Regions from separate parts of the Homo sapiens genome. Here all the other regions are linked to region 3. Evidence: fine-mapped QTL for protein levels in blood plasma. A gene starts in region 3. Each other region holds a variant in brackets. All regions are shown on one strand. Distances are from middle to middle.

Region 1 (2,763 bases), 21 kb before region 3:
TGTGCAAATGCATATCAAAGACTTGAACAGGCATTCTCTTGAAATTTGAGGATTTTTAGTTTTTAATGCTGTCTTTGTTTAATATTAAATACATGTTGCCTAGTGGCTCCCAAATTTTGTGGGAGTCTCTAAATGTTTCCTCTTAAAGGTTCATTATTAAAAGTGGTTAAGCACACACTGCTATTTTTGTTTGATAGTTTGAGTTTTATGACCATATGAGTTTAAATGAAATCTGTTAAATGTTCCAGAGTTAACACTTTTTTTGGATAATTTGGAATAAAGTTTGTTTTTCAAGTCAAAAAAAAAAGAAAGAAAGAAAACTCTGACTAATACAGACTGCAACTCTTAGGTGAGTCCTAGTGCTGAATCAGGCCCAGACACAGTGGACTGGGCAAGGACGGCACGTAGGGGCAGACAAATTACTGAGACACCAGCTGGGGTGCTAAGGGAGTGCTGGTATCACCCTCCCCTAAGCCCAGGCTGCACAGTTTGTGGTTCCAAAAGAGAATTCAGCCTTCCACTTAAGGAGATGAGAGGGAAGAGTGGGGAGAACTTTGTCTTCCATCTTGAATACCCACCCAGCCACAGAAAAATAGGGCACTAGTCAGAGTCACAAGGCCCTGGCTCCTGGATAACATTTCCAGATACACCCTGGCCTGAAGGGAACCCACAGCTTTGAAAAGAAAAACCCAGTCCTGGCGCCATGCATCACCCACTAACTGAAGAGCCCTTGGGCCCTGAATAACCAGCAGCAATACCCAGGTACTATATTGAGGGCCTTGAGTGAGCCTCAGGACTTGCTGCTTCAGGTGACACTCAGCACATTACCAGCAGTGGTGGCGATGGAGTGAAACTCCTTCTGCTTGAGAAAATCAGAGGAAAAAGTAAAGGAGGCTTCACCTTGCACTGGTGCACAGGTGCCACCAGCGCCACATGGGGTAGAGCACCAAGCAGGCTGTTGGGGTGCCCAATTCCAGGACGTGGCTCTTGGCATTTCTGGACCTGCCCTTGGACAGAGGAGACCCCACTGCTCTGAAGGGTGACTTTTAAGCCACACAACATTCACCACAAACTGACTAAAGAGCCCTTGGGCTTTAAGGGAACATTGGTATTAGTCTGGTGGTACTACCTGTAAGCCTGTGGTGGTAGTGGCCACGGGGTGAGGCTTCTTTGCCTTTAAAAAGGGGAGGGAAGAGTGGGAACAACTGCATCTTGTGGTTTGAGTGCCACCCTAGCTGTAGTACAATAGAAAACAGGTAAATTTCTAAGGTTTTGGACTCTAGTCCCTGAATCCTGGTTGGCACCTCTAGACCCACCTGGAACCTGAGGATACTCACCACCCTGAAGGGAAGGACACAGGCCTGACTGGCTTTGCCACCTGCTGATTGTAGAGCCCCAGGGCCTTGAGTGAACATAGGCAGTAGCCAGAGAGTGGTTATAGCAGACCTT[C/T]GGCAAGACCTTGTGCTGTGCTGGCTTCAGGTCTGACCCAGACCAGTCACAGTGGTTGTGGCCACAGGGGTGCTTGTGTCACTCCACCCCCAACTTTAGGTGGCTTAGAACAGGGAGACAGACTCAATTTGTTTGGGAGAAGTAAGAGAAGAGAACAAGAGTCTCTGCTTGGTAATCCAGAGAATTATCCTGAATATTGTCCAAAACCATCAAGGCAGTACCTCTACAAGTCTGCAAGAACCACAGCTTTACTGGTCTTGGGATGCCTGCTAAAACACATACAGTTTAGATCAAAATACTCAAATCTGTCCAGATATCTGGAAAGGCTTCCCAAGAAAGTTGAGTACAAAAAATCCCAGACAGAACACTACAATAAATACTTTAGCTCTTCAGTGCCCAGACACTGAAGAACATCTATTAGCATCAACACAATTTAGAAAAACATGACCTCATCAAATGAACTAAATAAGGCACCAGAGACCTATCCTGGATAAATAGAGATACGTGACTTTTCAGACAGAAAATTCAAAATAGCTGCATTAAGGAAACTCAAAGAAATTCAAAATAACACAGAGAATAAATTTATAATTCTATCAGATAAATTTAACAAAGATACTGAAATAATTAAAAAGAATTAAACAGAAATTCTGGAGCTGAAAAATGCAATTGGCATGCTGAAGAATGTATCAGAGTCTTTTAATAGCAGAACTGATGAAGCAGAAGAAAGAATTAGTGAGCTTGAAGACAGCTTATTTGAAAATACTCAACAGGCTGGGTGCAGGGGCTCATGCCTATAATCCCAGCATTTTGGGAGGCTGAGGTGGGTGGATTGGTTGAGGCCAGGAGTTTGAAACCAGTCTGGGCAATATGGCAAAACCCCATCTCTACTAAAAATACAAAAATTAGCTGGGTGTGGTGATGTGCACCTGTAGTTCCAGCTATTTGGAAGGCTGAGGCACAAGAATCACTAGAGCCCAGGAAGCAGAGGTTGCAGCAAGCCTGGGCAACAGAGTGATACTCTGTCTGAAAAAATAATAATAATAATAATCAAAAAAGCAAGAGAATAAGGAATAAAAACCAATGGAGCACACCTACAGGATCTAGAAAACAGTCTCAGAAAGGCAAATCCAAGAGTTATTGGCCTTAAAGAGGAGGTACAGAAAGAGATGGGGTAGAAAGTTTATTCAAAGGGATAATAACAGAGAACTTCCCAAACCTAGAGAAAAATATTAATATCCAAGTACTAGAAGGTTATAGAACACCAGGCAGAATTAACTCAAAGAACACTACCTCAAGGCACTTAATAATCAAACT
Region 2 (2,763 bases), 14 kb before region 3:
TTTATGGGCTGAGAAGGAAGGAAGTGCATGCTGATTGGCCCACAGGTAGCCATGGACAGGCCTGGAAAAGGCACTATAAGTTCTTATTCTGGTCCATGGAACTGGCAGCCTGGCCCCCAGGCTTCCAGTCATCCCTGGCTTAAAGGTAGGGCTTCACCAGGGACCTGCGCCTTTCTGCCCAGGAGCCTGTCTGCCTCCTGCCACTGTTCATGGTGCCCAGGCTGTTTGTGCAGAGGGGCACCTGCAGGCCATCACTGAGCTGCCTTCAGCAGCCACCTTTGCCTCCCTCCTGTGCTCATCAATGCCCAAAGTCCAGAGGGGGCTGAGGCAGCAGGGGGCTGGCATGTCAGCACTGCCCCAAGTGTGTGCACTCCCAGCCGGGTGATGACAGTGCCCAGGCTTGACCTCAACTTTGCTCTGAGATCAGAGTGAACACCGGGAGTGGGGAGAGGCCAGGCAGCAGTGGTAGGCACTTCCGAGCCTGCAGGGATGGGGGCCAAGAGTGCAGGCCCAGGTCCGCAGCCATGTCTTGGGCAGCTGCAGCCACACCTGGGAGAGTGGGGCTCCTGCCTGCTCCCAGCCCTCAAGAGCACAGGGGAGGACAGGGATTCCCAGGTCCACAGCCACAGCTTGGGCAGGTGCAGCCACACCCAGGAGGGCAAGGCTCCTGTCTGCTCCTGGCTCTCTCTGGCTCTGCAGAGCCCACAGCCCAGTTGCGCCTTCCTTGCTGCTGACAGCATCTTGGCAGTGCCCACACCAGGCAGGCCACCATTGCCATCACCGTGTATATCAACAGAGTGATATTGTTAGTCCATATGTCTTTCTTTTACTTCCAAGTGTCACACTGCTCTCCAGGATGATAACCCATCTACATGCTCTAGCAGTACAGGAGGATTTCTATAGCTCTACATCCTTGCCAAAACTTGGCACAATCCAACATCATTTTTTTCTAGTCTAGTAGATTCCATCAAAATAATGATTTTGTTTCAAAGGTATAGATTAAAGTCTAAACATTAAATAAGATATTATAGGGTTTCACAGGACATAGTAACAATCTCTGAGGTGTTTTTTGTTGTTGTTGTTGTTGTTGCTGCTGTTGTTTTACAAAATTCCTGTTAGGAATAACTTTTGTGTCCAGGCGCGGTGGCTCACACCTGTAATCCCAGCAATTTGGGAGGCTGAGGCAGGTGGATCGCTTGAGCTCAGGAGTTTGAGACCAGCCTGGGCAACATGGCAAAACCCATCTCTACCAAAAATACAAAAAAAAAAAA[C/A]AAAAAACTAGCTGGGCATGGTGGCACATGCCTGTGGTCCCAGCTACTCAAAAGGCTGAGGTGGGAAGATTGCTTGAGCCCGGGAGGTGGAGGTTGCAGGCATACCACTGCACTCCAGCCTGGGTGACAGATTGAGACCTCCATCTCAAAAAAAAAGAAAGAACTTTTGTAAGTACAGCTTTTATTATCCTAACTGCTGATCTAGCAGCTACAGGAGAAAATGGAACATTTTCTCTTCCTTATCTTGAAGAAACTTCTTTCACCAGAAATTAGTAGGGCCTCTAGTTCTCAAGGTCAACTGCCTAAATTCCATTGGTTAATCCTGATGGATAAGCAGGCCTGAGAAGAAACGAATCACACTGGGGAAAAAGGTCAGAGTAAGGATTATTGGAATATGGAGCATATTTCATTGCAATCTTTATTAATTTGTATGCATTATGTGTACCTATGTGTTTGCATATGTATTGCTGTGTGGTGTGTGTATGTGTGTGTGGTGTGGGGGGGGTGTGCGTCTTGTGTGTGGAGAGTGTGTGTGTGTGGTATATGTGGTGTATGTGTGTGGTGTGTATATGTGTGGTGTGTGTGTGGTGTGTGTGTGTGAGGGGGTGTTGGGGGTGTGTGGTGTGTGTATGTGCTGTGTGTATGGAGTATATGGGGTGTGTGGGGGGTGTGTGTGTGTGAGTGGTGTATGTGTGTGGTATGTGTGTGTGGTCTGTGTATGTGTGTGTGTGGTGTGTGTGTCTGTGTGGTGTATGTATGTGGTGTGTGTGTGGTGTATTTGTGTATTGTGTGTGTGTGTTGTATATGTGTTGTGTTTGTGTACAGAATTGGCTTCAGCAACCAACCACTTCCTCATTCTCATCGCACCCTCTAGTCCATAGAAGGAGAGAGAAAGAGAGAGAGAAAGAAAAAGAGAGAGGGTTATAAACTCTAAACTATATTATAAATAAAATATTTGTTATTTGTCCTTGTCTGAACACTGGAATCCCAATCAGGACAGGAACAGTGTAGTTGGGTTTTTCACTATGGATATTCAGTACCTGCGAAGGTGCCCGTGACATAGGTCGGTTGAACGAGTCTTAGCTGAGTGGACATGTTCACTGATGGAAACTTGAAAAATACAAAATAAGTATAAGGATAAAAATAAAAAGCAATACTAATTTCATCAGCCAAGGCTGGGGGAGGGGTAAGGAGAACCACTGTAGAATCTTCATACTTGGTCTCTAATCTATTTTCTAAGTGTTTATAGATATATGAATACATAAACACCAAGTGATACAATATCTACCATTTTATAGTCCACGTTTTCATTTGGCAATTTAACATAAGCATGTTTTCATGTCATGCCCTTAGCTACCACAGAGTCAATGACAAAGCTGAAATTCAAATCTGGTCTGATAGGATTAAGTGTTGGGATTATTAACCAAATGCTATATAGCTGCAACCTAAACTTGGCAGCAGTATAGCATATATACAAATACATGTACAACAT
Region 3 (2,763 bases):
AACATCATGCCCTGAGAAATCTGCCATCTGTAAATTTCCGCAGTGGGAGATAACCCCCTGGAAGTTTTTATCCTTCTGCACTCTACACCAAGAGTACAGGCTGGGCCCAAAGCATCTTTAACCTCTCGTCTGGAAACCCCAAGGGAGGGTGATAAATCAGACCAGCCTAGAGGAAGAAACAGATACAGAAAACCACACTCCTGCTCTGACCTCTGTGTGGCTTCTCTAAGGAGCACTCACATCCAGTGAGTATGTGGCCCCTGCTCAGAATGAATCCTGGGTATGTGCCCTCCATCCTCCAGAGTTCTTACCTTGGAGAGCCTCCTTGAAAAACGAACGCCAGCTTTCACTGGTGACTCCCATGACCAAGGAGCAGAAAACAATGCCTGTGAAAAGCCTCATTGTGCTGAAGAGAAAGAAAGACAGGGGCAGAGGATCATAAAAAAAAACACAGATCTATGTTTTGAGGACTGAATTTCTTTCCTTTTTTTCTTTCTTTTTTTCCTTTTCTTTCTTTCTCCTTCCTTTCTTTCTTTCCTCCCTTTCTTTCTTTCTTTTTTTTTTCCTATTGCCCAGGCTAAAGTGCAATGATATGATTAAGGCTTACTGCAGCCTCGACCTTCTGGGCTCAAGTGATCCTCCCACCTCAGCCTCCTGAGTATTAAGGACTACAAACGTGCACCATCACACTCAGCTAATTTTTTTTTTTTTTTTTTTGGTAGAGACAAGGTCTTGGTATGTATGTTCGGCCCAGGCTAGTCTCGAACTCCTGGCCTCAAGCAATCTTCCTACCTCAACCTCCCAAAGGATTACAGGCATGAGCCACTGTGCCAGCCAAAGGACTGAATTTGAAAGACTAATTCCCCATTTCCATTTGTTTGTATGAGAATCATAACTGCATGAAAGATTGAAACGGGTTTTAAGAAGAAGCATAAACCCTTAATTCTCAGCCCAGATCTCTAGAAAGAATAAGAGGATTCCAACGTGTTATTTGGTCTGTGGTCAATTTGTCACCCAATACAGCAGACTAAAGTCAATCAAGAAGCATTTCCTGAGTTCCTACTCTCCTCAGCACTGACCCCGTAATGAGGTAGAAAACACAGTTTCTCTCCAATTGAAATTTGACAATTATGTGAGAAAAGGATCTCAAAAGAGTCAAATAAGAGAAATTACTCCTTGGAAGAAACCTCACCTGTGGACCTTTCTCCAGATGAAATTTCAGTAAAGGCAGAGCTGCTGGTATCTTCTGGCCGTGGAGCTATAGTTGGTACCTCTGCTGGCTTTGGCATTAATGGGAGAACGGTTTTAAATCCAACAACCTGCCTTGCCAAAGTCCTTTTTGCTCAATTCTTTGGGTATTTTAAAAATTAACATATTGGGTAATAGTGTTTCCTTATCTAGAAGTAGTTTTCCAAATTGGGTCATCAAGGTATTTATTTTCTGGCAGTTTTTCTTAATTGCCACTTTTCCCTCTTTTTAGTTTCCTGTATCACAGAAGAGTTGTATTTGCAAAATCCAGTGTGGGAAGACAGAGGTCTTTCTCCACTTTCTTCTCTTTGTGTCTTTCCATTCTTAACTGTTTAGTAGGAGGTCTTCCCAAAAAATTGCACATAGATATTATGCTGTAGGAAGTGATCAATATTATTAGCAAAAGAGATGTTTGCTTGTCTCTTGTGACTTCTCTCTAAAGAATGTAAGGACACAGAACAAGCAAGACTTGACTGTACCATTCATGGGATGAGGTAATGATTCTGGGAGAATACAAGGACAGGAATAACACCAGAAGATCAAGGGTGAAGGCCTTTGAGGCATAAAAACTCTTTTTTCATATAAATATGTATTATTCTGCACTTTCTTTTAAACTTACTATTTATTGGAAGTCTTTCCATGTCGGGCTTGTTGCTTTTTTTTTTTTTTTTTTTACAGCTACACAGTATTCCATTGCATGGATGGACCATAATTTATACAATATTAATGGCTGTTTTGACAGTTATTAACCTTTTGATATTACAAATAATGGTGCATTTATTAACCTTGTACATATGTCTCTTGCACATGTACAAATATATCTCTAGGATAAATTCCTACAGAAGAAACTCCATGGTGAAAAAGTATCAGATTTTATAAATTTTTTGTTTGTTTGTTTGAGACAGAGTCTCACTCTGTCCCCCAGGCTGGAGTGCAGTGGCATGATCTCAGCTCACTGCAACCTCCACCTCCGGGGTTCAAGAGATTCCCCTGCCTCGGCCTCTTGAGTAGCTGGGATTATAGGCACATGCCACCACATCAGGCTAATTTTTCTATTTTTAAGAGAGACGGGATTTCGCCATGTTGGCCAGGCTAGTCTCGACCCACTTACCTCAAATGATCTGCCCACCTCGGCTTCCCAAAGTGCTAGGATTACAGGCATGAGCCAACGTCCCTGGCCCTAGATTTTATAAATTTTTATATGTTGCAAATTGCCTTCCATGAGGGCTGTATCAATCTCTACTCCCACCAGAAATGAGTGAAAGAACTTGGTTCCACATTGTCTCTCACACAGTATACTCTCAAACTTTTTGGTCTTTGAAATTGTGAGTAAAATAAAACTCAAAGTAATTTTAATTTACATTTCTCTTATTATGATTTTGGTTTCACATCTTTCCACATGTTTAAGAGCTATTTCTATTTTCTAGGAATTGTGAATTCATACCTTCATATCAAAGTAGTCATTTTTTACTGGTTTATTGTGTTTTTATTTATCACATTAGAGAAACTTTTTAT

Direction of the effects. Alleles are on the strand shown, and positions count from the first base shown. The strength of an association depends on the size of the effect and on how common the allele is.
As copies of T replace C in region 1, the plasma level of the protein whose gene starts at base 1,278 in region 3 goes up (moderate association).
With allele A in place of C in region 2, the plasma level of the protein whose gene starts at base 1,278 in region 3 is lower (strong association).

What was found. PIP is the posterior inclusion probability: the model's chance that the variant is causal. The UK Biobank Pharma Proteomics Project read protein levels with antibody pairs (Olink). The fine-mapping took linkage between variants from a reference panel, not from the people measured, so its PIPs are less certain.
Region 1: its variant is fine-mapped to the plasma level of the SAA4 protein (UK Biobank, PIP above 0.99).
Region 2: its variant is fine-mapped to the plasma level of the SAA4 protein (UK Biobank, PIP above 0.99).

Annotation. Positions count from the first base shown.
Region 1 is chr11:18,214,243-18,217,005 of GRCh38, forward strand. No RefSeq gene overlaps it. Among named protein-coding and RNA genes, the nearest start is that of SAA4, 21 kb to the right of the region's middle. The variant C/T (reference allele first, on the strand shown) is at 1,450.
Region 2 is chr11:18,221,104-18,223,866 of GRCh38, forward strand. No RefSeq gene overlaps it. Among named protein-coding and RNA genes, the nearest start is that of SAA4, 14 kb to the right of the region's middle. RefSeq lists an enhancer at 373-873. The variant C/A (reference allele first, on the strand shown) is at 1,272.
Region 3 is chr11:18,235,525-18,238,287 of GRCh38, forward strand. SAA4 (serum amyloid A4, constitutive) reads right to left here and starts at 1,278. Exons shown (of 4, transcript NM_006512.4): 1 at 1,193-1,278; 2 at 312-406. The coding sequence starts at 402. SAA2-SAA4 (SAA2-SAA4 readthrough) reads right to left here. Exons shown (of 6, transcript NM_001199744.2): 4 at 312-406. It also overlaps a transcript of SAA2 not described here.